Linked DNA regions of Homo sapiens. The protein of the gene in region 7 interacts with the protein of the main gene of each other region in a biochemical or structural test. Each region holds a gene or a part of one and is shown on either strand. Other genes may lie near its edges.

The links.
Region 1: of the proteins of LRRK2 (region 7) and ARHGEF7, one has a biochemical effect on the other in vitro, tested with the Homo sapiens proteins (2 studies listed by BioGRID and IntAct).
Region 2: the proteins of LRRK2 (region 7) and ARK2N form a complex in vitro, tested with the Homo sapiens proteins (one large-scale study listed by BioGRID and IntAct).
Region 3: the proteins of LRRK2 (region 7) and APEX2 form a complex in vitro, tested with the Homo sapiens proteins (one large-scale study listed by BioGRID and IntAct).
Region 4: the proteins of LRRK2 (region 7) and CHGB interact on a protein array, tested with the Homo sapiens proteins (3 studies listed by BioGRID and IntAct, with this or other methods).
Region 5: the proteins of LRRK2 (region 7) and ECHS1 interact on a protein array, tested with the Homo sapiens proteins (2 studies listed by BioGRID and IntAct, with this or other methods).
Region 6: the proteins of LRRK2 (region 7) and CUEDC1 form a complex in vitro, tested with the Homo sapiens proteins (2 studies listed by BioGRID and IntAct, with this or other methods).

The regions. Positions count from the first base shown.
Region 1 is NC_000013.11:111,303,271-111,306,232, forward strand, and holds the end of ARHGEF7 (rho guanine nucleotide exchange factor 7), read left to right. Parts: 3' UTR 1-2,462; downstream 2,463-2,962. UniProt on the Homo sapiens protein: Acts as a RAC1 guanine nucleotide exchange factor (GEF) and can induce membrane ruffling. Functions in cell migration, attachment and cell spreading. Promotes targeting of RAC1 to focal adhesions. May function as a positive regulator of apoptosis.
Region 2 is NC_000018.10:46,180,534-46,184,033, forward strand, and holds part of ARK2N (protein ARK2N), read left to right. Parts: intron 1-3,500. UniProt on the Homo sapiens protein: AMPK substrate important for exercise capacity and skeletal muscle function.
Region 3 is NC_000023.11:55,006,460-55,009,557, reverse strand, and holds the end of APEX2 (DNA-(apurinic or apyrimidinic site) endonuclease 2), read right to left. Parts: intron 3,041-3,098; coding exon 2,123-3,040; 3' UTR 501-2,122; downstream 1-500. Other genes in the region: ALAS2 (5-aminolevulinate synthase, erythroid-specific, mitochondrial isoform a precursor), read left to right, coding at 215-378. UniProt on the Homo sapiens protein: Functions as a weak apurinic/apyrimidinic (AP) endodeoxyribonuclease in the DNA base excision repair (BER) pathway of DNA lesions induced by oxidative and alkylating agents.
Region 4 is NC_000020.11:5,923,682-5,925,853, reverse strand, and holds the end of CHGB (secretogranin-1 precursor), read right to left. Parts: coding exon 1,754-2,172; intron 883-1,753; coding exon 805-882; 3' UTR 501-804; downstream 1-500. UniProt on the Homo sapiens protein: Secretogranin-1 is a neuroendocrine secretory granule protein, which may be the precursor for other biologically active peptides.
Region 5 is NC_000010.11:133,366,855-133,370,354, reverse strand, and holds part of ECHS1 (enoyl-CoA hydratase, mitochondrial), read left to right. Parts: intron 1-323; coding exon 324-451; intron 452-1,332; coding exon 1,333-1,432; intron 1,433-3,361; coding exon 3,362-3,466; intron 3,467-3,500. UniProt on the Homo sapiens protein: Converts unsaturated trans-2-enoyl-CoA species ((2E)-enoyl-CoA) to the corresponding (3S)-3hydroxyacyl-CoA species through addition of a water molecule to the double bond.
Region 6 is NC_000017.11:57,868,413-57,871,912, forward strand, and holds part of CUEDC1 (CUE domain-containing protein 1), read right to left. Parts: intron 2,958-3,500; coding exon 2,874-2,957; intron 782-2,873; coding exon 710-781; intron 1-709.
Region 7 is NC_000012.12:40,231,497-40,234,996, reverse strand, and holds part of LRRK2 (leucine-rich repeat serine/threonine-protein kinase 2), read right to left. Parts: intron 2,724-3,500; coding exon 2,614-2,723; intron 1-2,613. UniProt on the Homo sapiens protein: Serine/threonine-protein kinase which phosphorylates a broad range of proteins involved in multiple processes such as neuronal plasticity, innate immunity, autophagy, and vesicle trafficking.

The DNA.
Region 1 (2,962 bases), on a different chromosome or scaffold from region 7:
AGACGATCAAACCATGACTGATGAATCCAGACAGGAGGGATTGACTCTGAGGACCTGAGCTACATCAATCCACTCTGTGAACATCTCAGTTACCTCATTCTGCAATAAGTTCAGTGACTGACTAAAAGTCTTGTTTTTCCAGACTTTGAATTGAATATATAAATATTATATATACATGTTTCTTGTAAATATCCCATTTTGAATGCATACCTGTGGTGGTTCTGTCCGGGCTAATCCCCATGCTAGAATGTCCTTTCCAGCTACGTGAATAAGAAGTCCCATGCCCGCATCCACCGGAAGCAGAAGCCTGGTGGATGCCTGGTTCGTTCCGCAGCACCAGGGCCTCCACCGTGCTGTGGCAGCACCCCCCATGTCGGTATTTCTAAATAACCTTATTTATACCTGCAGAGATACACTTCAGTCCCATTCAGAAGTCTTCTCTTAAAGCAGCATTACAGTCCCAGACCTGCGGGTTTCTGAGGGCAACTTGCTGGCTGACAGACTCAGTCTTGACCTCAAGGAAGGCCCATACGGCACTGCCGCATCCACCTAGAGGTGTTTGCTCTTGTCCGCTGTCTGAGTACTGTGATTCTCAGATGAGTTTGCTGCGTTTTGGGAGGACACAGACGGTTCTGTATAGGCTAGTTCAGTAACAACAAAATACACTGTTTTGTCTTCCCTCAAAGAGAGATCTTACTAGAACCTGTAAATAGAATGTATTATTTATTATAAGTCACTGCAGCTGATGAAAACAGATGGAGGCCATGCTGCAGGCTGATACTGATGGGTGGAGTTTTGTCATCAGGCCAGCCTCATCCCGAGGTCTCCTCCACCATTGGCCGTAGCCAGCAGGCTTCAGTGCTCACCGAAAGTAAAATCCCCTCCTTCAGCAAGAATAAAGCAATATACACCTTAGGTTCCACTAAGTAACATAGGCATAAGCAGGGAACGTTTCCCCCACTGTGTTCCAGTGCAGAGGAGACGAAGCCTGTCCTCACCGCGGCTCGCTGGGCCCAGGCTGGCTCTGGAAAGCCTGTGCGGTCCTGGGCAGGAAGCCCGGCCCGTGGAGCAGGTTTTCGTTCTGCTTCAGCAATAAATAAGGGTGACCACAGGGACTTTGCTTTTGGTTTCCTTTCCTGTGAAAAGGTTGGTTTTAAAGTGAGATACACTTTTCCGTAGAACAAGTGTTCTATCTTTAAAAACCCAAATTGCAGCACCGTGGATTACTGGTCTCAGAACAACTCATTGCGCATCAGATTTGACTCTCTGATTTTCTGTCTATTGGCCAAATTGCCCTTTAACTGCACCTGAATCCTTTGTGTACTGATGCCTTTGAGCTGGGCACCTTGGGAGAGTGTTGTGTTGCTGTTTACGGTTCTTCCTTGCCCTTGCTAATTACAGTCTCTGGTGCCCAGCAAGCCCCTTTGGCTTCCTTCCGTGACTGGTCACGTTGTCTGCCTGGGCTCAGCGTGGACCTGCCCCATGCTGCAGAACCTGGCCTCACCTGGACTTTTCACTAGAATTGCCAGCTTCCTCAACTTAGCAGATCATTCACTCATGCGGGCACAAGCAAAGATCAACACTTTCTTTTTTGGTAAGCTTGAGTTTTACAAGTTATTTTTTGGTGATGCGTAAGACATTGCAGTGGGAAACCATTCAACTTGAGTTTATTGGAGTTTGCTGTTGTAGCAGGTTTTAACTCAGGAACAACTCTTGTCTGATCTCTCCGCCCCTCTGCCGGGAGGCGACATTAACTGTCCTCTCGGAGCCGGTAGCGTTGCTGTCCGAGTCCCCAGGACGGATCTCCTGCAGACCTGCCTTAATGCTCAGATCGAAGTATTTCACAAGAATACTTGTGTTTTTAACAGCCCTTCCCCTGGACGGTGCGGCCATGAGGGCCTCATGTTACGGCATTGCCTTTTCTTTCTGTGGATCCAGTATCTTCCTCGGCTTTTTAGGGAGCAGGAAAAATGCGTCTGAGAGCAACTCTTTTTAAAAACCTGCCCTGTTGTATATAACTGTGTCTGTTTCACCGTGTGACCTCCCAAGGGGGTGGGAACTTGATATAAACGTTTAAAGGGGCCACGATTTGCCCGAGGGTTACTCCTTTGCTCTCACCTTGTATGGATGAGGAGATGAAGCCATTTCTTATCCTGTAGATGTGAAGCACTTTCAGTTTTCAGCGATGTTGGAATGTAGCATCAGAAGCTCGTTCCTTCACACTCAGTGGCGTCTGTGCTTGTCCACATGCGCTGGGCGTCTGGGACCTTGAATGCCTGCCCTGGTTGTGTGGACTCCTTAATGCCAATCATTTCTTCACTTCTCTGGGACACCCAGGGCGCCTGTTGACAAGTGTGGAGAAACTCCTAATTTAAATGTCACAGACAATGTCCTAGTGTTGACTACTACAATGTTGATGCTACACTGTTGTAATTATTAAACTGATTATTTTTCTTATGTCACAGAATGTGTCGCTTCGTCTTCTTTGATGTGTTTTCTGTGTGCTTGTTAGCTTTACAGTTTCTTTGGGCTGTTTTAGATTTGAAAATTCTGTCTGTCTTTGATACTGAAGATAACATGTTTCCTTTAAAGTCTAGAGTTTGAGAAAATTTGAAGATTTTTTTTTAAAAGACAAGGAAAGAACACTGGAAGTCTTAGGAACAAAAGCTGAAGTAACAGGTCACGCTGGTAGGCACAGCCCCCAGGTCCTCACCCATGCCTGGAGGAATGACCTGCATTCTGGAAGGCGCTCAGGACACCGTTTTGTGGGATCAAGTAAGCGAAACTTTCTTGAAGATATCTGTGGGGTCCCTTTTAGGAGCTGTCATAAGACAAAAGGAAATTGCTCGTGTGTGTCCCTGTGTGGCGGTGGTGCAAACGAGGGTGTCTTCCGGAAGGGTGGCCGGGAGGACCAAGCGGGGTCTCCTGTCCATGGTCCGTGTACCTGGCTCAGGTGTGTCTA
Region 2 (3,500 bases), on a different chromosome or scaffold from region 7:
CTGTCTCTACTAAAAATACAAAATTAGTTGGGCATGGTGGCGCATGCCTGTAATCCCAGCTACCCAGGAGGCTGAGGCAGGAGAATCTCTTGAACCTGGGAGGCAGCTGTGGTGAGCCAAGATTGTGCCATTGCACTCCAGCCTGGGCAACAAGAGGGAAACTCTGTCTCAAAAAAAAAAACAACAATAAAAACAAAACAAGCAAGCAGTCTCTGCCCACAGAACTCAACCTAGTGAACCAGATGATTTCTGAGTTTCCTTCCTGCTCTAAAATGTGGAGAAGAGAAAGTAGATTATAAGGGAAAAAAGTACTGCATAACAAAACAACTGTAGTATGGAACTAGTGTTTTCCCTTATAAATTCATTTTAAATAAGGTATTAGAAAATAGCATTTTTCTTGGTATCTCTAAGCTTTAAAAGGCTGGAAACTTAAATGTCGTTTTTTGGGCTGGGCATGGTAACTCACGCCTGTAATCCCAGCACTTTGGGAAGCCGAGGCAGGTGGATCACAAGATCAGGAGTTCGAAACCAGCCTAGCCAACATGATGAAACCGTGTCTCTACTAAAAATACAAAAATCAGATGGGTGTGGTGGTGCACGCCTGTAATCCCAGCTACTTGGGAGGCTGAGGCAGGAGAATTGCTTGAATCTGGGAGGTGAAAGTTGCAGTGAGCAGGGATCATGCCATTGCACTCCAGCTCTGGGCAACAGAGCAAGACTCCCTCTCGGGAGGTGGGGGGGGAAATGTCGTTTTTTTGTAATGCCAGTTCATTTACAAAATACATTTGCTTGTAATTCAAGTTCATGTATTAAGTTCTGATTGTTGTTCAGAGAGAAACAACATTAAATCTGTTAAAACTTAGAGCAGCCATTCCTAAGAATGTATATAACCTAGAATTGTGCCAGGCATGGTGGCTTATGCCTGTAATCCCAGCACTTTGGGAGGCTGAGGCGGCGGATCATGAGGTCAGGAGATCGAGACCATCCTGGCTAACGTGGTGAAACCCCGTCTCTACTAAAAATACAAAAAATTAGCCAGACGTGGTGGCGGGCACCTGTAGTCCCAGCTACTCGGGAGGTTTGAGGCAGGAGAATGGCATGAACCCAGGAGGAGGAGCTTGCAGTGAGCCAAGATCGCGCCACTGCACTCCAGCCTGGGCGACAGAGCGAGACTCCGTCTCAAAAAAAAACAAAAAACTAGAATTGTGCTTGGGTAGTCTAGAAATTAAGTTTATTTTGATTGATTGATTGATTGATTGAGATGGGGTCTTACTATGTTGGCCAGGCTGGTCTCCAACTCCTGGGCCCAAGTGATCCTCCCATTTCAGCCTCTCATAGTGCTGGGATTACAGATGTGAGCCACTGTGCCTGGCTGAAATTAAGTTTTTATTAGCATAATTAGCATTAGAGAAACAAGATACTGACCAAAGTGACCAGTAGAAGTTATTTTTTTACTGAGTTGACTAGTTTAAAAAAATGACCTTTACAATAATGTCTGGAGTCTGCATTTTGTTAGGTGCCTTATAATTAGAGAAAGGTATTGTCGGGGATAGGGAAGTTGGGTGTGGACTAAAATTTAAGGAAAACAGGATTGTTTTTCTTTCTGTATTAAGAACAAAAACTTCATGTGGTTAAAATTTTAAGCAGTATCCTGTCTGCCTTAGTTTTAACCTAGCATAGAATCATAGCTTGTTCTTAAATCAACAGTTTAGTGTCAAGGGTTTCTTACTATTTTTCTCTGCTGAAATCAACTAAGCACTTTGCAGTGAGCCTGAAGGTGTGTATAGTGGAGAGAATTTTGGCAGCTTTTATCTTGGGACCTCAGTTCCTGGCATGTGGTTATCCATCTTTATGTGAATTGTCTTCTGAAGGAGATAGAAAATGACCAGGGCAGAAATCTTGGAGAAAATTTAGAACCTTTGTTTTAGGGCCAGGCATGGTAGCTCACACCTGTAATCTCAGCACCTTGGGAGGCAGAGTTGGGAGGGTAGCTTGAGCCCAGGAGTTTTAGACCAGCCGGGGCAACAAAGTGAAACCCTGTCTCTATTAAAAAATTATTTTTAAAAATTAAAAGAACCTCTGTTTTAAATTATTCTTGATTTACACTGATGATGCTTTTGAGTACTTTAGAGAGTCATTAGCCACAGTGCTTTTTTTTTTTTTTTTTTTTTGCATTTGATAACTTCTTTGGCTTCTTACTTGATGCTAGTTTATTCACAGCCCTGGTGCAGGTCCAGGTACATGCCAGAAGTAGTAATATCTGCAATATGAAGTGATTTGAGCAGCCATTATCACCTTTGACCTATTTATAGAGTTTATATCAGTGGAGAAAAAGTTGGCTGGCAAGCAAGCAAAGCTGATCTCTGGTGGTTGCAATCTCACAATTTATATTTAAGTTCCGGGTAGGCCAAATTCAGTGCATTATGGACAGATCCATTCAGCTGTATTAATATTAGAGTTCCCTTTCTGTACTCTAACTTTTTAGCACTCCAGTTTCCCAGTCAGCTTCACTGTTGAAGGAAAGAAAACCGAAAAACTTACCACACTAAAAAAAAAAAGGAAGAGTTCCTTAATGTAATATGATAGTCAGTGTTCAGATTTCCCTCTTATCTCATAAATGTGTCAGATCAAGAGCCAAATAAGGTCTCTGCATTGTTTTGTAATCTGTAGGTTCCCCCTCCATTTCTTTTCCCTAGCAGATTATTAGTTACAAAAGAAGTTTTCCCAGTGTGGATTTAGCAGTTACATTCCTTTGGATTTCTGTGGTGGTGGTGGTAAACGTTTTTCTCTGACCCCTGGGTTTCTAGTTAATTGGTATTAGATTTAGAAGCTTGATCAGATTGTTTCTATAATATATATTCTTTCTCTTGCTTCTTTTGCAGGGGATGAGGGGAATACTTTATAGATGGTACTTGGATCAGTAGGTGCATAATATTTGGTTCCCTGTGATGTTAGTAGCTGTTGGTGATCGTTGCCCAGTTGTGTTAATTTGTTACTCATAATTCCTTACTCTGAATGGGGCATCCTCTCTCATCAGTCCTAGTTTGAGTCTTTTATGCTTGTTTATAGCTTCTTCAAACTTTTCTTTCTTTTGAGGATTAAGGGAAGGGATGAGTTGCTGTGGAGAAAAGGGCTCTTTCTACTATATTGTATTTCTGTAAGTGTTTTTTATTTTAGTCCTAATCTTTGGTTCTTGCATTGTCTGCATTGTCTATGCTGCAGCTTCTTGGTGGGAAAACTGACTCAAAATCCCAGCAAATAATTGAAAGAAGTCCTTCAAAACCAAATTTTTAAAAAAATTTTTTTCTGAGTTAGAGTCTTGCTCTGTCGCCCAGGCTGGAGTGCAGTGGCGCGATCTCAGCTCACTGCAACCTCCGTCTCCCGGGTTCAAGCGATTCTCCTGCCTCAGCCTCCTGAGTAGCTAGGATTACAGGTGTGTGCCACCATGCCTGGCTAATTTTTGTATTTTATTTTTGAGACGGAGCCTCACAGTGTCACCC
Region 3 (3,098 bases), on a different chromosome or scaffold from region 7:
GAGAGCTTCCAAATCTTTTATAATATATATCCCAGCATCCAGATACAAATGGTAATATTCACGGCACACACAGAAGCAAACAGTAGGCTACTTCTGGCCCTGAGGTATCTTGAAGGGTTGAGGGGGATCAATATCTTGGCTCATCTGTACTGTGACAGATTTGGAAGATCTAGTCTAACCCATTTTTTCCCTCCCCTCCCCCTACCACCTTCAGAGAAGCTGCTGCTGGCTTGGACTGCGGTGGGGCTGCCCCTCCAGGATGTGTCTGTGGCTGCCTGCAATTTCTGTCGCCGTCCTGTACACTTTGAGCTCATGAGTGAGTGGGAACGTTCCTACTTCGGGAACATGGGGCCCCAGTATGTCACCACCTATGCCTGAGAAGCCAGCTGCCTAGGATTCACACCCCACCTGCGCTTCACTTGGGTCCAGGCCTACTCCTGTCTTCTGCTTTGTTGTGTGCCTCTAGCTGAATTGAGCCTAAAAATAAAGCACAAACCACAGCATGTGAAGCCTTTTATTGGACAGGGAACAGACAAGTGCATTCTGACTCCCTCAGACAAGTGGCAGATCTATGAGGTAACCATAGGTCACTTGTTGGTCACCATTCCATTTTACCAACAGGGAAACAGAATGAGAAAGAGGAAGGAAATGCCCAAAAACTACACAGTGAGTTGCAAAGAGCTAGGATACTTGGCAGATTTATTTGAGATGGCTCTTCTCCAATGGTTTCAATAAAAATCCAGGGATTGACGCTTCACTGGTAATCCGGGCCCTGGAAATCTGGGCCCAGGGTAGCCCCTGAAGCCAGGAAATGAGTCAGCCCTAACCAAATTCCCTAGAAAGGAGTGGTTCCCCAAAACCAAAGAGGTATTTTCCATAAGGGGATATGGATGTCTTCCTCAATCCATTATCCTCTCTCCCTCCCACGGCATCCCACAGAACAGGATTTACCAGTCCCATTCTTTTTCTTTTCTTTTTTTTTTTTTGGAGACTGAATTTCACTCTTGTTGCCCAGGCTGGAGTGCAATGCATGATCTCAGCCCACTGCAACCTCCGCCTCCCAGGTACAAGCTATTCTCCTGTCTCAGCCTCCTAAGTAGCTTGGATTACAGGCACGCGCCACCACGCCCAGTTAATTTTTTTGTATTTAGTAGAGACGGGGTCTCACCATGTTAGGCTGGTTGCGAACTCCTGACCTCAGGTGATCCACCCATCTCAGCCTCCCAAAGTGCTGGGATTACAGGCGTGCACCACTGTGCCTGGTCTACCAGTCCCATTTTCAAAGGTGAGAAGAGGCTTGGCTAGAGCAAGCACTGTGTTCAAAGCAATGCTCCCACTTTCCAGGTCACAGTATACAGGAAACATTTCCATGGCACACTTAGGGGTACTAATGATACTACTTGCTAAGGAGGCAATCGTCCCTGAAACTTGTGTGGTCCCAGGCCCTGCCTGGCAACTCTGAGGGCTGAGGACCGTTTCTTTCAACCCTGTAACCCACTGTGGCAGCTGTGGGACGCACTAGCTGGAAAGCTCTGGTTTAAGGCTACACAGCCCACCTTCCTTGCTGATTTCACCTTAGCCGTACAGGAAATTCCTACAACTGAGCAGAGAACCCTTTATGGTGAGCACTGCTGCTCACGCCTCACTATTCCCTCCTCCCCCCTCCCTCCTCCCCTTTCTCTGGGAATTACATCATTGGGCTACAGCCAGCCGGCAAACCAAGTATTGAGATAGCTTCTCTGACTCAACTTTATGGAGTACCTCCACAATGTCCAAAGTGCAACCCTGAAACAAATACACAGACTTTATTTATGCACAAATACACTTTCCAGCAAAGACAGAAGTGATTTAAAATCACACAACTTCCTGGGGCAGCTAGTGTCCGTGTACTTCGGACAGGAAGGTGGAAAGTGGTGTAAGGGGCTGGGTCACAGGATTAAGGCACAAGAAGCTCACCAACAAGGAGCTAGGTAGGAAGGAAAGCGAGGAAGAGAGGGCTTAAAAGAGGAAGAGAAGGGTAGGAGACTTTGAGGGAGAAGCAGGAGGCAGCTCAGGGAAGGGGAGCTGGCCTCAGATCATGTGCAGGGGTGACCATGCCAGATGTCCCCAGGCCTCCATTGGTTCAGCTGGGCCTGCTCCAGAGGAAGAAGTTGCACCGGGAGGAGGGGTCAGTGGGAGGACCCCGGGGCCTGGCACACATGTAGAAGCGGCGGCCCAAGTTGGGTCCTGGCTTCTTCACAGTACGCATCACACATGGCTCCCTGTGGCCCCCACAGAGGGGTGTGCGCAAGGGCCCCGCCAGCACAGACTTCCAGAATGAGGTCCGTAACTCCTTCTCATCTTTGGCTTCTGAAGTCTTGGCCTGCCCCTTCACCACTTTGGCCACTGCCTTCTCTTCTGGAGTCTTCGGGGTCATGAGGGCGCTCATCAGTGGTAGGCTAGGCAGCTCTATGTCAGGAGAGGCTTGGGGACAGCTAGGGGAGGGCTGAAAGTAGCTCTTCAGGTTTTTCTGGCCTCTGCTAGAGCCAACCTGACTGGGCTGAGGCCTGGTTGAGCGCACTTGGGCTTTGTTTTGGCATGTCTGTACCCGGGTTTGATTGTTGTGCTGCAGCGTCGACTGCTCCAACACAGGACTTTGTTCGAGAGGAACTAGGAAGCGAAGGATCTTGAGCTGGGTGCCTGCAAACTCAGGGAGGAAGCGGGTGCACAGAGGTGGGCACTGTTTTGCAGGCACAGAGGACACACTCAAGACTGCACCCACAGGGCAGTGGTCAGAGCCCATCACCTCAGGCAGCAGGAAAGAGGCCTGAAAGGTGTCTATGACCAGGGTCCTGTCCCCCAGCACATAGTCAAGCCGGGAGCCATAGTTGAGATGGCGGGCGCCAGTGACTGCTGACCAGCAGGTGAAGGCCCCCTCCTGCTTTGGTTGGAAGCAGCGGTAGCTATCGATGAAGGGCCCTACATGAGAGGCAGACTGGCACCCCAAGTTACTGAGCAAGCTGTCCATCCACTTGCGCCCTGGGTCCTCTTCAAAGCATTCCTAGGTGAGGAGGAAAGGGGGTTGGAAGAGAGAGAGACAGAACTAGATACCTAGAACT
Region 4 (2,172 bases), on a different chromosome or scaffold from region 7:
CTGGGCCTCCCAAAGTGCTAGGATTACAACTGTAAGCCACCGCACCCAGCTGCCTCTATCTTCTTAAGGAGTAGAAATCAGACAAGATCTGAGGGGCCAGGGATCTGTCTTGACAATCCAGATGTTTTCACTCCCACCCCGGAATTCTTCCCATTATCCAAGCTTTCTTCTCAGCCCTGAAAAATGAACTTTGGCTGGCTACTTGTAGAGCTCTTTAGATAAAGGAATTTTTAAAGTAATATCTTATGATTGTTTTTGAAACAGGTTCTTCAAGCCCCTGTAATCTCTCTCAGCATGGGGGAGTAGATGTCTTTTTCTAATCTATTTCTCTTTATATCCTGCACATTACTTCAAAAGGTTTGCTTTTTTATTCTATTATGCATCCAAAACCCAACAAATCCTAGGGCCATCTTTTGCAATTTACTTCAAAGAATAGATTTGAAAAGTCACACACCTCTCTCTTTGCCCAAAAGAAGCTGAGAACAATGAAGCTTTTGGTCTCAGGTGAATCTTTTATTATTTCCAACTGAGACAAACATTTTTCCAAAGACAGTAGCACAGTCATTGTCATAAGCATGTTAATATGTCTATTTTGCAGAAAAGAATATGCTACAAGTCATGCAATTCACATTTTCAATAGCATTCTGACAGAAATTAAAGACAATTCCAATTGTGTCAAACATTTAATGAATAGTAAGTTCTACTTTCTGCCCTTGGGTAGATAAATGGTGTCTTTCAGTGAAGTGGTGAAAAACAGATCATGTGATGGCTGCTTCTTAACAGTGCCCACCGCTCCAATGACAGTCAGCCCCTTTGGCTGAATTTCTCAGCTATCTTCTGTAGTTCCAAATCCATTGCAGCCAAGTTTTCGAGTTCTTTTTTCTGGAAAATACAGAAAAGTGGAGGCATGAGGTCCCGAACCAATTTCTTTTGCTGTAGTTTGATGGAGCATGAGTGCAAAGGGGAATTTTAGGCATGTTAGAAGCTGCATTAGTCAACCTACCTCAGTAACTCTCAAAGTGTGGTCCCCTGACCAGTGGCATCAGCCAGGAACTTGTCAGAAATGCAGATATTGGGGTCTCACTTGGGACCTACTAAATGAGGAACTCTGGGGGCTAGGAATCCCTCATGATCCTAATGTACATTCAACTTTGAGAAGCACCAACCTACATAATCAATATTAGGAAAAAAAACATTGTTTGGGTAGGTTCAGCTCCAGTAGTGTTACCTCTCCCAGATACAAATTTCTGATGGCAGTAGGGCATGAAATAATAAAGATAGCAAACTAAATAGGCAAGCAAGTAAACTTCTCTATCACCTATTCTCCCTGCCTCAGGGAGAGAGTGATGAACAATAAGAGGACCAAGGGGAAGATACCAGAACAGCAGTTGTTAACGTTGGCTGAACGCTGCAATCATCTGGAAGCTTTAAAATATTCTGATGATCAGGCAGCACCCTAGGAACTAAGTAGACAGAATCTCTAACACAGTAATTTTTCACGCTCTCCAGGTGACCCCAGTGTGCAGACAAGGTTGAGAAGCAATGCAACCGAGTGAGGTGGACAAGGATGTGGACGATGGCTAGAGGTAGGTGGAAACCGACCCCCAAGGTGGCCTCCACTCCATTACTAGAGCACCATTTTCATAGTGATTAATTCCCACCAATTTCTCCCCGTGAATATCGGATAGTCTTGAACATAATGTGCTAACATTGACCAGAGTAAGTACTTTTAAACAGAAGCCCTAGACCATACCTCGTCCTCTGTCAGGACTGTCTGGTCAGCCCTGTCCTTTTCATTTTCTGCCTCCTGGTGGGTGCTCACCGGCTCCTCAGAATCATAGAAGTCTGGAAACTCAGCTGACTTCTTCCTGTAGTGAAGGAGCTGGTCCAGTTGGGCCACCCTGTCATATTGCCTTTTCAGGTCCAGCTTGGGGACCCTGGCGAGGTTTCTCTTCTCATACCCCCAGTTCACATCCTCAGAGAAGGGCTTTTTCTCCCACCAGTCATAGTTGTATTCTGGGAAGAAATTCTTCTCGTTCAAGGTCAGCTCATTTTCCTCCTCACCCTCGAGAAAATTGTCATTCATGTTGTCTCTTCTTTCAAAATGGCTGCTCTTCCACTGGAGAGGGTCGTAGTATGGGTTGAACAGTTCCCCTAATCTCTTCCTCTTTT
Region 5 (3,500 bases), on a different chromosome or scaffold from region 7:
CAAAACAGCTTCTTCAAAGGGGTTTAGGTCCTTGGCAGTCAGGCTTTGTGTGTGTCAAGGGCTTATGCCCTGACAAATATGCCTAGCCTCTGTGGGCGCCTCCCTTGCACCTGCTGCCTGCCTCAGGGCCCCTCTGCGTGACTTCTGTTCTAGCTGGCATTACAGCGTCCCTACAGCTGTCCACGTGGCCTGGTGTCAGCCGTGCCCAGCAACCCCACTGCCTGTGTCTGGTGTGCTCTGAAGTTCCTTGTTGGTCTGAGAGATATAGGATGGGTGGGCTCTCTGCTCTCTGGTAACTGGAACCTCCTTTCCACTCCTGCTAGCTGGAGCTGATATCAAGGAAATGCAGAACCTGAGTTTCCAGGACTGTTACTCCAGCAAGTTCTTGAAGCACTGGGACCACCTCACCCAGGTCAAGAAGCCAGTCATCGCTGCTGTCAATGGCTATGCCGTGAGTGTTGCTGCCAAGAGTCTCCTCCTCTCGTGGTTGAAGGAACCGTGCTGTGCATACACAGCATAACAGATTTTTATTTTGAAGAGGCCTTTAGTTCCCAGGCCAGCAGCCTCCTTTCCTGCCTCATGGTGCTAAAGAGCCAGGAACTGTGTGGAGAGGACACCTCCTGGCATCTGCTTTTTTCGTGGCTGTTCACCTGACAGCTTCTCCCCAGCAAGCCTCTCTTCCAGGGTGGGGGAAGAGAGGTGTTGGCTTTGGCTACATCTATAAACTAGCTTCTTTTGCTCCCCTTGAAAGCTCTGTGTCCTGGGACTATTTGAAGTGCTGAGACTGATCTTGGCCTATAGGGAAGGCAATGTGATCATTTCATGACGCTCCCTGCCGTGTAAGCCAGGGGTCTGCGGATTGTGATCATTTCATGACGCTCCCTGCCGTGTAAGCCAGGGGTCTGCGGATTGTGATCATTTCATGACGCTCCCTGCCGTGTAAACCAGGGGTCTGCGGATTGTGATCATTTCATGACACTCCCTGCCGTGTAAGCCAGGGGTCTGCGGATGGAGTTTTCCCGGCACAGCCACACCCACCTGTGCACCTAGTCTCTGTGGCTGCATTTCGGCCACAGCAGCAGAGTTGAGTCGTGGCAGCAGAGCCTGTAAGACCCTCATGGTCCTTTACAGGATGTTTGCCAGCCCCTGGTAAACAGCATCAACCATCTGTAGTTAACTTATCATAACAATTATCTAGTTTGGTGCCACCATGTTAGTCTTTGTCATACCCCCAACACTGTTTCTTTTAAATGGAAAATTTGAATAAGCAAGCAGAGTGATTTCTGACTGGGTTCCCCTGGTAAGACTCTCCTGATGCCGAATGTTTTACAGTTTGGCGGGGGCTGTGAGCTTGCCATGATGTGTGATATCATCTATGCCGGTGAGAAGGCCCAGTTTGCACAGCCGGAGATCTTAATAGGAACCATCCCAGGTAAAGAGTGACACTGTCTCTGGCATAGATGCCTTAGGTAATTACTCAAAATCTGCCTGTGTCTCAGGGCCCACAGCTCATATCTGACCAGAGGCCCTGGATGGACAGCCCCATGGCTGGTCAGTGGTCCCTCTGTGGACAGCCACGGAGGCTAGAGTGGTTGTGACAGAGCTTGGGGGGGGCCTTAGAGTCCCGGGACTGTGACTGTGCCCACATCTGATGGTGTTGGGAGAGGCTGGTCCTGGGTAACGCTGGCTTCTAACCATGACAGTTCTTGCTTGTGATTCGTGTCCATGGCAGAGAGGGAACATGGTGACCCTGGGTGGCACTGGGAGCTCTGCACACTGCCATCTCACTGGCCATGGAGGTCACATGGCCTGGGTTCAGGGTGGGGAGTCAGACCCCCCACCCAGGCCCGTGAGAAGGGCCTGGGCTCTTGGCAAAAAGCAACACCCTCTAACCCCAGGGTTCTCCTGGTAGGAAGGGTGGGCCCAGGCCGAGCAGCCAGGAGGGAGCTGAGACCCTGAGGGGAGCAGCTGCACTCAGGGTGCCCTTCGCTGCCCTCTGAGTTGGACGAGGCCGATTCTGAGGCCTGGAGCTGTGAGCTCGGTGCATTTGTTTCGGGTCTGATCCCTAGAACAGCTGCTACTATAAGGGACCAGTGCCTGGGGTCAGGGAGGCCTATAAGCTTCTAATATGTTGACCACAGAGGCTGGGGAGGGCCCTACAGAGTCATCACCTTGATCTAATGTCAGGGTGTTGGGGGAGTGTAGTGTCCAGCCCTACGGGGCTTAGCAGGTGTTCTCCCCATGTGCGGAGACGAGAGATTGTAAGAAATAAAGACACAAGACAAAGAGATAAAGAGAAAACAGCTGGGCCTGGGGGACCAATACCATCAAGAGGCGGAGACCGGTAGTGGCCCCGAATGGCTGGGCGCACTGATATTTATTGCATACAGGACGAGGGGGCAGGGTGAGGACGGTGAATCCTCTAAGTGATTGACAAGGTGAAGCAAGTCACGTGATCATGGGACAGGGGGCCCTTCCCTCTTAGGTAGCCGAAGCAGAGAGGGAAGGCAGCATATGTCAGCATTTTCTTCTATGCACTTACAAGAAAGATCAAAGACTTTAAGACTTTCACTCTTTCTTCTTCCACTATCTGCTACGAACTTCAAAGAGGAACCAGGAGTACGGGAGGAGCATGAAAGTGGACAAGGAGTGTGATCGTTGAAGCACCACAGGGAGGGGGTTAGGCCTCCGGATGACTGCGGGCAGGCCTGGAGAATATCCAGCCTCTCACAAGAAGCTGGTGGAGCAGTGTTCCCTGACTCCTCCAAGGAAAGGAGACTCCCTTTCATGGTCTGCTAAGTAATGGTTGCCTTCCCAGACACTGGCGTTACTGCTTGACCAAGGAGCCCTCAAGCGGCCCTTATGCAGGTGTGACAGAAGGCTCACCTCTTGCCTTCTAGGTCTCTTCTCACAATGTGCCTTCAGCACCTGACCCTATACCCGCCAGTTATTTCTTGGTTATATTAGTAATACAACAAAGAGTAATATTAAGAGCTAATGATTAATAATGTTTATACTAATGATTGATAATGTCCATGATCATCTCTATATCTAATTTGTATTATAACTATTGTTATTCTAACTATTTTCTTTATTATACCGAAACAGTTTGTGCCTTCAGTCTCTTGCCTCGGCACCTAGGTAATCCTTTGCCCACAGGGGAGCACCAGATGTGGGGCCTGAGCTTGAAAAGGGGCTGCTGCCCCTGATGTTCCCGGGCTCTTGTGCTGCCTGGCCTCTGACCCCTGGACCTAGTCTCAGGGCCTATCTTAAGCCCCTTGGAATTTGCTGGCTGCACAGCTGTGATGTCTTCTTGGGTTCACTCATCACAGTGCCAGCCATGACCAGCCCCTCCCTGCAGGTGCGGGCGGCACCCAGAGACTCACCCGTGCTGTTGGGAAGTCGCTGGCGATGGAGATGGTCCTCACTGGTGACCGGATCTCAGCCCAGGACGCCAAGCAAGCAGGTATGGGTTGGGGCTGCCCGCAAGAGCCACCTGG
Region 6 (3,500 bases), on a different chromosome or scaffold from region 7:
GAGGACGCCACCCCAGGAGCAAGAGGCTACATCCTGGGTCAGCCTGCAGGGGCAGCACAGGACACCCTGAGCCAGGCCCAGGGACCGCAGGCGGCTCAAGATCCAAGTATTCCCTCCCCAGCTGCAACACACTGCAACGCATCTTGGCTCGCTTTCCCGCCGCCACCGCCTTCCCGCCCCTCCCCTAGCCACCTCCAAAGTTGGTTCTGGGATTTCCATGACTAATCCGAGATTTTCCTTGAAATGGAGCCTGAAAGGATCGCAGCCTCATTCACACATGGCTGTGGGTCTGTGTGGCGGGGAGGTGAGGGGGAGGGAAGGGGGCATTCAAGGCTGGTAGGACTTTGTGGAAAGAGGTCCCCCACCCCCACAGAGGCTTAGCAAGGGCCTCTCTGTGCAGTCAGCTCCGGCCAAGCCTCCTCGAGCCACAGAGAACGTGAACATGAGGATTGCGGTGAGGGCATGTGTGGCACGTTATTTTTCTGCAGACATCTGGCTCAAGAGGATTTAAAACTTAATTTGTATCTAGACTCAGCTGTAGAGGGAAGTGAGGCAGGAAGGCTGAGGGAGCCAGCCTGCGATGAAAATGTCACTGGTTCACCAAGAGTCAGCTGCATTACATGTGCTGAGGGGCTCCCTCACTCCTGGGAGGCCACAGGGCCTGTCTCAGAAAAGCTGGGGAGGGAAGCGGGGCCTGAGTGGGACTCACACTTTCCCATGTGTTTCAGCTTGTCCCTGAATAAGGCATCTTCAGACACAGCGGGGTTGGCGTCGCCAGTTCCTGGAAGGAGACACCTGCTGAAGGCCGGCCACCGTGGCCAGCCATGGCCGCTGTCCCAGCCCTACCCACCCATCTGAGGACAAATGCAAAGAAAGAGCAGGCTTCTTCCCTGGCCAGAAGGGAGTTTAAAGCAAGGAGGATGTGGAGTTCCAGGAGCTCCTCTTTCCCCTTGTGGACTTTGTTTCCTCCTCTGTAAAAATGGGGAGGGTTCAGCGGTCTACTGTGTGTGCAGACAGCCAGCTCGTGTGTGCTCCCAACTGTCCACGCCTCTGACCAACTCCATGTTTCATGACATCACCTTGGTAGCTTGGGAGTATTTCCACCATGGAGGTCACCAAGCACTACATATCAGGCTCCCGCTGCACCCAGAGTTGGCTGTGAAACATTCACCAGCACACCAGGGGCCTCCTGCACCCCGACATTCATGTGACAGTCAAATGAGGTGCTGGCTCAGAGCCGGCATTCACCTGTAGCAAGTCCCTTGTCCTTCCTGCCAGGTAAGCCCATCCATTGCTCCCTCCCAGCCACAGGGTTTCTGGCTATTAGACAATGAGTAGGAATAGAATGGGACTAGTCCTGGAGTCAGAACCCCACCGGCCACCCAGAGTCTCCCGGGCTCGCTCAGCATCCACTTGGGTTTTTTGCTGGTTTCTGAAGCCCCTGCTCTCTGTCCTGCAACTTGGTTAATCCCCAGTCACCTTGCCTGCTAAGTCCCCTTTGAGTCATTCTGATCCATCTCAGCAGCCCCGGTATCTCTAGTTAATTCAGGATCAAGGACAAGAGGCTCCTGCTTAAAACTCCCAGCTGCACATCTGCTGAGCCCTAAGCTCCCAGCCTGCTGCTTATGAGTCAGTTCCACAGGATTTTCTCCCTTCAAGCTGGGATCAGCTCAGCTCCCCATCCCTCTGCTCCTCCACCCCCAACTCCACTGCATGATGCAAGGTCTATTCCAGGCAAGAGCCCTTCTCCGAGGTGGGCAGCTTGTGTACATGTGGGGCAGGGGGCACTGACTGATGAGGGGCCACTGTTCGCACACAGGCACCAGGTCATCGTTCCCAGCTGTGGCTCAACCCAGTAGTCTGCGCATCCCAGGAGCACTGCAGCCCCCTCACCCCTATCCAACCCTCTTTCAGCCATCAGAGCTTCTGAGCAGAAGGGCCTGGCCCTCTTTACAGGCAATTCTTACTTCCCACCACCTTGTACACAAAGCTAGAAATTCCTCTTCCTCCAACACCTAGGGCAAGGCCCAACAGATGGCAGATATTCTCCAGCTATGTCATGAATGAATGAGTAAACTCCCCAGATTAATCCTGCCCTCCTTTTTTCCCATGCATTTGCTAAAATCAGTAAGTCCTCAGCTTTGCTAGTTTGTTCTACCTGTTTTCTGGGCATTTCTCCTTACAAGACCATAAGCTTCCCCAGGACACAGACCAAGACTTATGAGTCTCTGAGCCCCACCACGGGGCATTTTGGGGTCCTTTTCTTCTTTTTTTTTTTTTTGGAGACAGGGTCTCACTCTGTCACTCAAGCTGGAGTGCAGTGGCATAATCACAGCTCACTGCAGCCTCAACCTCCTGGGCTCAAGTGATCCTCCCACCTCAGCCTCCTGAGTAGCTGGGACTAGAAGCACAGGCCAATATGCCCAGCTAATTTTTAGTACTTTTTTGGTAGAGATAGGGGGGTCTCATTTTGTTGCCCAGGCTGGTCTTGAACTCTTGGGCTGAAGCAATCCACTCTCCTCGGCCTCTCAAAGTGTTGGGATTATAGGCGTGAGCCACCGCACCTGGCCATGTGTCATTGACTAGCCTACACTCGAGGCATAGGTTGAGAGTTCAGCCAGCCTATGTTACTTGAACACAACTGTGGGCTCTGAAGCCCAGCAGTGGCTGGATTGGAAAGACCCCAGAGCTGCTAAATGGACTGGATATGGAGATGGGGGCAGAAGCAGCCCCGCCAGCCTGCTGAGGAGGCCCAGGCCCCCTCCCACAATCTGTTTTTTCACCCTCCTCTCAAACTCCAAATATGCAAAGCAAAGTTGGGTGTGAGCTCCCCACTATGCCTCTAGGTTTTCTTCCCCAGAAGGCAAAGTTACCTGGGACAGGAGAGGAAAAGCCAAAGTCGTTTCCGACAGCCACGCTGCTGGATTTAGATTTCTGGGATTCGTATTTCAATCGATCTGGAAAAGGACCACATTCACAGGTCAGGGAGGTTAGCTCCTGGGCTCCCAGGGGCAGGCTGGGCTGGGACACGGTAGTTTGCTAGAGGCTAAGTCCCCAGAATCACACATGAGCACACACGGGCACCCAAAATATGAGTGCACACATCTACCAGCTCTCAAAGAACCAGCAGTAAAAGAAACTACCGCCTGACAGCCATCTCAAATGTCAGAATTAAAAGGACTCAGAGAGACTGTAGAGTCCAAACCCCCTCATTTAAAAAGAAAGGCACGGCCAGGGATGGTGGCTCATGCCTGTAATTCCAGCACACTGGAAGGCTAAGGCAGGCAGATCACCTGAGGTCAGGAGTTCGAGACCAGCCTGGCCAACATGGTGAAACCCCGTCTCTACTAAAAATACAAAAATCAGCCAGGTGCGGTGGCGTGCGCCTATAATCCCAGCTACTTGAAAAACTGAGGCAGGAGAAACACTTGAACCTGGGAGGCGGAGGTTGCAGTGAGCCGAGATTGAGCCACTGCACTTCAGCCTGGGTGACAAGAGCG
Region 7 (3,500 bases):
GGGACTATTATGTGTCTCATTTAAAAAGTTAAAAGCACTACTTATTTTCCAATAAATATTCAAATTCAAATATTCAGATTCACTATTTTCACCCAACTCCATATTCAAAATATCATGAAGCCTTATATACATCGAGAGCAAACCCATTTTTATATATGATGTAAATTTATAAATTATCTTAGACATGTTGATATATTAAAATATAGAGATATAATAAAGATGTTAGTTTGTGTATATAAATTAAGAATTCATTTGAATATTTAAATTATTGATTGCTACTGTTTTTAAAAGAGAAATTAATGATATATTAAAAAGTAGTGGGCCGGTGGCCGTTGCTCACGCCTGTAATCTCAGCACTTTGGGACGCCGAGGCGGGGGGATCATGAGGTCAATAGATCAAGACCATCCTGGCCAACATGATGAAACCCTGTCTCTACTAAAAATACAAAAATTAGCTGGGCGTGGTGGCGTACTCCTGCAGTCCCAGCTACTCGAGAGGCTGAGGCAGGAGAATCACTTGAACCCGGGACACAGAGGTTACAGTGAGCCGAGATCACGCCACTGCACGCCAGCCTGGCAACAGAGAAAGACTCTGTCTAAAAAAAAAAAAAAAAAAAAAAAAAAAAAGTGAATTTAGCATATCAATAATGTTTAGTTAGTTCAAGATAAGATTTTAATCCCTATGTTATTAATCCCAAAATATAATCTCTAGTCTATTCCTGCAAAGCATTGTTTGGCTTTACATTATTGGAAGAAGACTGAGCTGGCCACATCTAGAGTTTTGTATGTATTCAAGAAACGTTGCATAATCTCCATTTGGCAATTGGAGGACCTGAATGAAGCCAGTCTTCGATTCTCTGCCAGCCTTCCTCCTAATCACCCTGCCCCTACCTCTCCCTATACCATTCCCACAATTCCTGACTTTATTACCACGGAAGAAATTTTTCTTCAGTACTGGTAAGTCTTTGGAGGGAAAAGGCCTTGAAAAAAGAGAAATCTGTTTTACAATCAATTTTTGCTGGGAGTGATCTAATACACTCCACTGGAGACAGCAGTGTGTCTATCTTCTTCACAACTGCATGGTTTCTGACCCAGAGGACAGGCTTCAAAAACATTCAATGAATAGAAGATGAATGACTGGATGAACAAAGTGAGTGAATGAGTAAGTGAGTGAGTGAATGAAATTTCCTACATAAACTTTTATGTAATTTAATTTGAACAGTTGGTTTGTACAGGAATATGACTAGATGAGTTTCCCAAACACTCCCTGAGGTTATAGACTGGCTCATCTTTGGACTTCCTGGAAATTATCACCCAAACCAAGGGACATTTAAAGTTACAATTCCTAATTACTGGTATATTTTGAGTAATTCCTCATCAAATGCTGTATACTTTAGAACTGATACATAGAATTACAGAGATTAGATTGAAGACGAGAACTCCAATTAATTGTAAATATGCTCTTTCCAAAACACACCCTTTATGTACTGAAAACAAGAAGAGCAACACATTTGTCAAAGAGGGGAAAATGTATAAGCACAGACATGTTCACTTATGGACAAACACATAGCTCTAATTTGTCTAAATTTATAGCACTACTTGACACTGATCAGCAATACAAACACCTGAAAATTTTTCATAAATTAAATTTTCATAAACCATATACCATTGGAAGCCAAAAAATATTCACAATTTCCTTTTCTGTGATAAAGAAAAGTCATATTAGGTATAAAAAAGATTTAAAGTTAATGACAAAAGGTTTGTTTGTTTGTTTGTTTTTGAGACAGAGTGTCGCTCTGTCACCCAGGCTGGAGTGCAGTGGTGCAATCTCGGCTCACTGCAACCTCCGCTCACTGCAACCTCCGCCTCCCAGGTTCAAGTGATTCTCCTTCCTCAGCCTCCTCAGTAGCTTAGAAGATATTTTTTAACTGTCAAGAAACAAAGCTATCCAAAATGTATTTTCCTGGAAACACATTCTTCTTGAGAAAATATTTTCTTAATTAATGATGGCTAAGGAAGTAGTCTCATCTAAGAAGCCATTATGCTGCAAACTGCAAAAACATAGCTGGTAAAATTACTATCAAGATTTGGCTACAGATGTGCTGAAAGTTAATTTCCTCTTTCTTAACTCTTTCTGAAAGCCATAGTTTAAACTTACTGTATATATAGGAATATATATATAAATGTACTATTTAAAGACAGTAGAACATCAACTTTCAAATTACTACTTACAGAACTAACTTTTCTCAGTTCCCATTTTTTTAAGAACTAGTGGTTTGTATCGATTCTATTATTAAAAGCCAAAATCTCTTCATGGTTTGAATTCAAAAGTACTCATCAAAAATCTACAACTTAACCAGTTTTATAATTATATGATTATATTATTAAAATAATAACTTCTGACATGTTACCTTAAATGTTTGCTTTCTAAATCAAACTTCTGAGTTTAAAGCTCTCTATAAATGTAAATCATTGACTCAAGGAAAAATATCTGTATTTTAAAGAATTCCACAGGAGTAGCCTTGGATTGCAAACACAGTGTATCAAGGGAAGGTTGTCATGTGTACAAATAAATACTCAAGGCCATTTGTTTTACATATCTATCATACTTACTGGTGAACACCAAGGACTTCCCAATCATTTCCAACATCCTGGGGTCCCATTAAGCTTTGCATTGTACCTGGACAGACTTCTATTAATTTGCACAGAAGTGACCAACCCACCTGAAAACAAGAAAGACATATATTCACATGTTTTAAAGAATGTTAATAGAGCATACTCAGTCAAACATGAATCTCTTCAATCTTAGTGGAATAGATGCTTATCTCACTTGTAAACAATGGTTATACAACAAAATGATACCCTAAAATGCTTACCCAGAAACAAAAGCAAGCCGTATTCTTAGGATACACCTTTCTCCAAAAATCATACCAGAAAGACATACAAAAAATACAACATTTCAGCCGGCAGTTTGAGACCAATGTGGCCAAGATGGTGAAACCCAGTCTCTACTAAAAATACAAAAATTAGCCAGGCATGGTGATGGGCGCCTGTAATCTCAGCTACTCGGGAGGCTGAGGAAGGAGAATCGCTTGAACCCAGGAGGCAGAGGGTGCAGTGAGCCAAGATTGTGCCACTGCACTCTAGCCTGGATGACAGAGCAAGAATCCATTTCAAATATATATATATTATATATATATATAATTTAATTTATACATAATATATAATATATATAATTTATATATATAAATACATATAATTTCTAAATTATGAAGAACATAGACATGCCAATTGTCTAAATAAGGCAAAATAAAATAAACTATAAAAAATAGTTTTAGAGGTTGTACCAAGATTATTAAGTGCAAGAATGGCTATACCAGATCCTTAGTACTTTTTTTTTCTTGTTTTTTTTTTTTTTTTGGTTTTGTTTTTGTTTTTGAGATAGGGTCTCACTCTGTCACCCAGGCTGGAGTGCAATGGTGCAATCATAGATCACTGCA